Regions from separate parts of the Homo sapiens genome. Here region 2 is linked to region 1. Evidence: fine-mapped expression QTL. A gene starts in region 1. The other region holds a variant in brackets. All regions are shown on one strand. Distances are from middle to middle. Region 1 holds the start of ZMIZ2 (zinc finger MIZ-type containing 2). Region 2 has its middle 22 kb from the start of PPIA.

Region 1 (2,909 bases):
TAGGAGCAGGACCAGCAAGTGGGCCCTGTGGCAGGCAACGCTTCTCAATAGGTCACACATCAGGACTCACTGTCTCCAAGATTGCAGGGTCAGGATCCAACCCAGGTGACAATGGAGTCAAAGGGTATTGAAGAAATGATGGCTGTGGAATGTTGCAGGAGCGGGGTCCTTGGTAGCAAAAAGTGGGGTACTCACATATACAGGTAGCTGAAAGTCCTGCCCCCTCTACCTGTAAGGCCACAGTACTAAAATGTCTAAGCGTGGGGCTAAGTCAGGATGCAGAGTTCATCAAAAAGTCCAGGAATAAGCAATGGCCCAGGCATGAGACATTTCAGTGAACAGCTGAAGGGACAACCTTAACCTGGCATCAGTTTACAATGTGTAAGATGGATATCTGGTAGCATCCTAGGACTGAGGACACATGACCACCTTCATGTCATCAGCCCTTGGGAGCTCAATCCCAATAATCAGGATGCTCCCCAAACATCTTAGGCCTGTCCTTCAGAAATCTACAACCGGCAACTGTCACCTGCTTGTTCTCTTCATTTACACTTCCAGCTTGTAACTATCCCCTGGGCATGACAAGGGCTAGAGGTCAGTACCTCTGGAAGTTAAGATTCCTTCACTTCTCCTGTTTCCACACTAAGCATCAAGGGATGCCCTCTGGTTCTAGCTTGCCAGAACTTGGTGGTGAGTCTGTGTCCATCCTATCCGTAATCACCACGGTCTCAGACCAAGTCACATGTTCCGTGTGTGTCCCTGTGAAATCTGCGATGACACAAATTAAAGACACCACCATGGATGTTCTGTAATACTGGAAAGAGGGTACCCTAGGGAGAAGGAGAGGCAGAACACTGCAGGGCAGAGGGTCCAGGGAATGGGAGGAGAGACACGGTAGGTGGAGGGGTAAACAAGGCACCGGGTGGGGGTGCCGCGGTGAAGGACACCTGGCACTAGGGAAGACAAGGCACCTCAGGGGAGCAGGGCATCCTCACGCCTGAGCTTCAGTATGTCCAGTTTGGAAAGGGGTGTCCCCATCAAAACTGGCAGCTGGGGGCTGGCCGCTCAGCGTCGTTCAGCCCAGGAGCGGAACAGCTCCTCCGCGAGCAGGTGACGGCCTCAGACGGCCCCCACATCGCCGTGCTGGTGGGCACGTAAGTAGGAGCGGAGGGGCGTACCATGTAGGTGAGACTGCCTGGCCCCAAAGCTAGGAACGATCAGGTTGGAGCGAAGGCCCGGCCAGCCTTCATCGCTCAGGAGAACCCCGAGCGCCGCTTACACCCCTCGGCCAGCCTCCAACAAAGACTCAGGGGAGGGCTGGATGACCCTGACGCCCACGGGGCCGAGCCTGCCCAAGACCACGACGCACGCGTGGCAGGTGCCGGCAGGTGGGCGGCAGAGCCTCTAGCCCCAGCCCAGCTGTGAACCCTACCGTGGCGCCGCAGCGGAACCGGGGCGCCCCGGGCGACCAGCTACACCTGCCTGCCCGCCCGCACCTGCCGGCCCGCACCTGCCGCACCTGCCTGCCCCCGCCGGCCCACACCTGCCTGCTGGCGGCGTTGCCAGGGGCCACCCCCAGGACCCCGCTCACCTCCGCCCGGCCTGGCCCGGCCCCTCGCCGTGGCGGCCCCCGGCCCGCGCCGCTCCATGCGCTCAGCCCGCCCTCCGCGCCGCCCGCCGCCCCGGGGCCGCCGCCACCCGCGCCATCGCGCCGCCGCCCGCTCCGAGGGCACAATGGAGCCGCCGCCGCGCCGCTCATGCATATGCATGACGCCGCGCAGCCGGCCCCGCCTCCCAGGCCAGAGCAGCAGAGCCCCGAGCCGGCGCTCGGGGCGGGGGCGGCCGCGAGCCCGAGCGGCCCAAAGCGGCAGGGTGGGGCCAGGGCCGCAGGTGGCTGGGCGGGCAGGAGACGCAGCCTGATCGCGACCTGCGCCCCCAGCCCCCTCCACACCTTTCTGAACGCGGCGTCGGCAGAGCCACTGCGCTCTTCCTGCTCGCAGTCCGCCGGGAGCGGGGCGGGGCCGGGCGGCGGAGGCGGGGCCAGGACGCCGGGGCGGGGCCGAGTGGAAGGCGGGGCCAAGGTGCCGGGGCGGGGTCGGGAGGAGGAGGCGGATCCAGAGAGCCGGGGTGGGGCCAGGGCTCGGGGCGGGCCCCGGCGGAGGAGGAAAGGAAGAGTGAGTCCTTGCCCTTCCCCCACCCGCCCCGCCCGCGCCCCGCCCGCGCCCCCCCTGCTTCCTGGGAGTCCATTGCTCTGGCCCGGCGGGCGGGGACACGACTGGGAGACAGAGAGACCCAGGGTGCCACTTTTGGGAGGGGATCTTATTAAAGGACTCCGGAAGCCCCTCGTTAAAGCAGAAAACTAAACTTAACAAGTTCGCTGTCCTCACTGCTCAGTTCTCTCTTCCCAGTGGTTCTCCTTCTGGAAAAAGTCACTATTGAGCTAGTCTAGCCTGATGGAATAGCCTCTCTGATCAGTTTCGATCTTTGAAATGCTATTATCAGCCTTTAAGTTATTCTTGACTTTTCCTACCGTAAGTTGAGGAAGACCACATTCTCTCAACTACCCATAATTAATTTTTCTTAATTGTGGTAAAATACACATAACGTAAAACTTACCATCTTAACTGTTTCCAAGTGTAGTTCTGTGGCACCAAGTACATTCACATTCTTGTGCAACCACCAACCGTCTCCAGGACTTTTTCATCTTCTCAAATGGAAACTCCATACCCAGTAAACACTAGCTCCCCATTCTTTCCTCCTCCTAGCCTTTGGCATTCACTATTCGTCTCTAAATTAGACTACTCTAAGGACATCGTATAAGTGGAATCATACATTATATGTCTTTTTGTGACAGTCTTACTTTAGTTAGCACAGTGTCCTCACTTCCATCCATGTTGTGGCATGTGTCA
Region 2 (2,909 bases), 25 kb before region 1:
TTACCAATCCTATCACAGTAGACTGGCAGGCACTTCCTTAACCAAACCAGCACATGTTCACTGGATACCTCCATGTCCCACTTCACCCTGCAGGGTGCACTTCCTTAGCCAGGACATTCACAGGCTGAGTGGACATGATAACACCCAGACAAGACAAGCAGGAGGTGTGTTTGCTCCCTTTGTTCCAGGGTTAATTTCTTTGACAAATATTGCCAGCACTGGAGCATATCAGGATGACACTGCCCTCATGGAGCTTACAGTCTAGCCAGGAAACCAGGTGAAAAATGAAAGTCTCCTCAGGCCAAAAATGTTTAATCAGGCTCCAGCCTTATCTTTCAAGTAACAGGAAATACGGTAATAAAGGAAAGAGTAAATGACACCAGGAGGGAACGCATAGGGGACATTCTACAAGAAACTCCTGAATTGTGCGAAAAGATCAATGTAATGAAAAAAAGACTGTTTTAGATTAAAAGAGACTAAAGAGACACAAAAGCCAGGTGCAAAATGTGAGTGTTGATCGGATTCTGTTGAAAAAAGTTATAACTGGAACATGCGAATATAATAAATGATGCCATGGCATTACTCTCCGTATCCACCGATTCTGCATCCACAGATTCAACCAACTTCAGATCAAAAATATTTTGGGGGAAAATAAAAATAATACAACAATAAAGATGATACAGATGAAAACAATATAGTATAACAACTATGTACATTGTCTTAGGTATTATAAGTAATCTAGATATTATTTTAATTTTAATGTTTTTTAAAATTTTACTTTTTTTTTTTTGAGACAAGGACTCACTCTGTCACCCAGGCTGGAGTGTGCAGTGGGGCAATCTCAGCTCACTACAACTTCCACCTCTGGGGCTCAAGTGATCCTCCTACCTCAGCCTCCTGGGTAGCTGGGACTACAGGTACACACCACCACACCTGGCTAATTTTTGTATTTTTTGTAGAGACGAGGTTTCACCATGTTGCCTACACTGGTCTTGAACTCCTGAGCTCAAGCAATCTGCCTGCCTTGGCCTCCCAAAGTCCTGGGATTACAGGCGTGAGCTGCTGCGCCTGGCCTAGAGATGATTTAAAGCATACAGCAGGGGTAGAAAGGGTAGGAGGAAGTGGGTAGACAGAGATTTGTTAAAGGATATAAAATTACAGCTAGATAAGTGGGCTAAGTTCTAGTGGTCTATAGCATTTTAGGATGACTGTATTA[C/T]ATCATTTCAAATAGCTAGAAAGAGAATATTGAATGTTCCCAACAAAAAGAAATGATAAATGTTCCAGATAAATATGCTAATTACCCTGATCTCATCACTATACATTATATGTATCAAAACATCACTATGCACCCTATAAAAGTGTACTTGTTTATATCAATTAAGAAAATAAAAGAAAAAAATGTAAATAAGGCATAGAGAAAGATATGGAAATACTATGGCACTTTATATACAGGACTTGAGCATTCGTGTATTTTGGTATCCACAGGAGGTCCTGGAACTAATCCTCCATGGATACCAAGGGATGATAGTATTGTTAATTTTCTTAGCTGTGACAATGGTAATGTGGTTATAAATGAAAACTTCCTGGCTGGATGTGGTGGTACATGTCTGTGATCCCAGCACTTTGGGAGGCTGAGGTGGGCAGATTGCTTGAACCCAGAAGTTCGAGACCAGCCTGGGCAGCAGGGTGAAACTCTGTCTTTACAAAAAAAAAAAAAAAAATAGCCAGGTGTTGGGGTGTGTGCCTGTAGTCCCAGCTACTTGGTAGGCTGAGGTAGGAGGATTGAGGTGGAGGCTTCAATGAGCTGTGATTGCACCACTGCACCCCAGCCTTGGTGACAGAGCAAAGGAAAAATAAAACTTAAATTTTTTTCCAACATACATACCGAAGTATTTAGAGATGAAGTATTTATTTTGTCTGCAACTTACTTTCCAAAGTTGGCAACAAAAAAAAGTGTGTGCATAAAAAAAATAGATACATGGAGAAAGAGAGAGCATGTAAACGAACATGGCAAGATGTTAACAATTGGTGAATCTCTAGGTTATGTGGGTGCTCACTGCACTATTCTTTTAAATTTATTTTTATTTTTGTTGTTTTTCAGAGACAGGGTCTTGCTCTATCACCCAGGCTAGAGTGTAGTGGCACCAAGATAGCTCCCTGCAGCCTCAAACTCCTGGGCTCAAGTGACGCTCCCTTCTCAGCCTCCCAAGTAGCTGGGACTACACAGGTGTGCTCCACCACACCTGGTTAATTAAAAAAATTTTTTGTAGACACAGGGTCTCACTTTGTTGTCCAAGCTGGTCTTGAACTTCTGGATTTTGGCGATCCTCCTGCCTTGACTTCACAAAGTGCTCGGATTACAGGTGTGAGCCACTGCACTTGCCATTGCATTACTTTTTAACTTTATTAAAATAAAGAGTTGGGGCCGGGGCCAGGTGCGGTGGCTCACTCCTGTAATCCCAGCACTTTGGGAGGCCTTGGCGGGCGGATCACTTGAGGTCAGGAGTTCATAACCAGCCTGGCCAACATGGTGAAACCCCATCCCTACTAAAAATACAAAAATTAGCAGGGCTTGGTGGCACACGCCTGTAATCCCAGTACTCAGGAGGCCGAGTACTGTAATCCCAGTACTCAGGAGGCCGAGTACTGTAATCCCAGTACTCAGGAGGCTGATTCGCTTGAATCCAGGAGGCGAAGGTTGCAGTGAGCCGAGATCGCGTCACTGCACTCCCACCTGGAGGACAGAGTGAGACTCTGCTTAAAAAAAAAAAATTAGCCAGGCGTGGTGGTGTAAGCCTGTGGCCCCAGCCACCTGGGAGGCTGAGATGAGAGGAGTGCTTATGCCCTGGAGGTCAACGCTGCAGTGAGCTGTGATTGCACCACTGCACTCCACCTGACAGAGTGACACC

Evidence for each region. PIP is the estimated chance that this variant, and not a neighbour inherited with it, causes the effect.
Region 2: its variant is fine-mapped to the expression of ZMIZ2 in whole blood (INTERVAL, PIP 0.91).

What each region holds. Positions count from the first base shown.
Region 1 is chr7:44,747,674-44,750,582 of GRCh38, reverse strand. It overlaps ZMIZ2 (zinc finger MIZ-type containing 2), which reads right to left and starts at 1,736. Exons shown (of 19, transcript NM_031449.4): 1 at 1,592-1,736. RefSeq lists silencers at 1,432-1,481, 1,492-1,601, 1,712-2,241.
Region 2 is chr7:44,772,881-44,775,789 of GRCh38, reverse strand. No RefSeq gene overlaps it. Among named protein-coding and RNA genes, the nearest start is that of PPIA, 22 kb to the left of the region's middle. The variant C/T (reference allele first, on the strand shown) is at 1,217.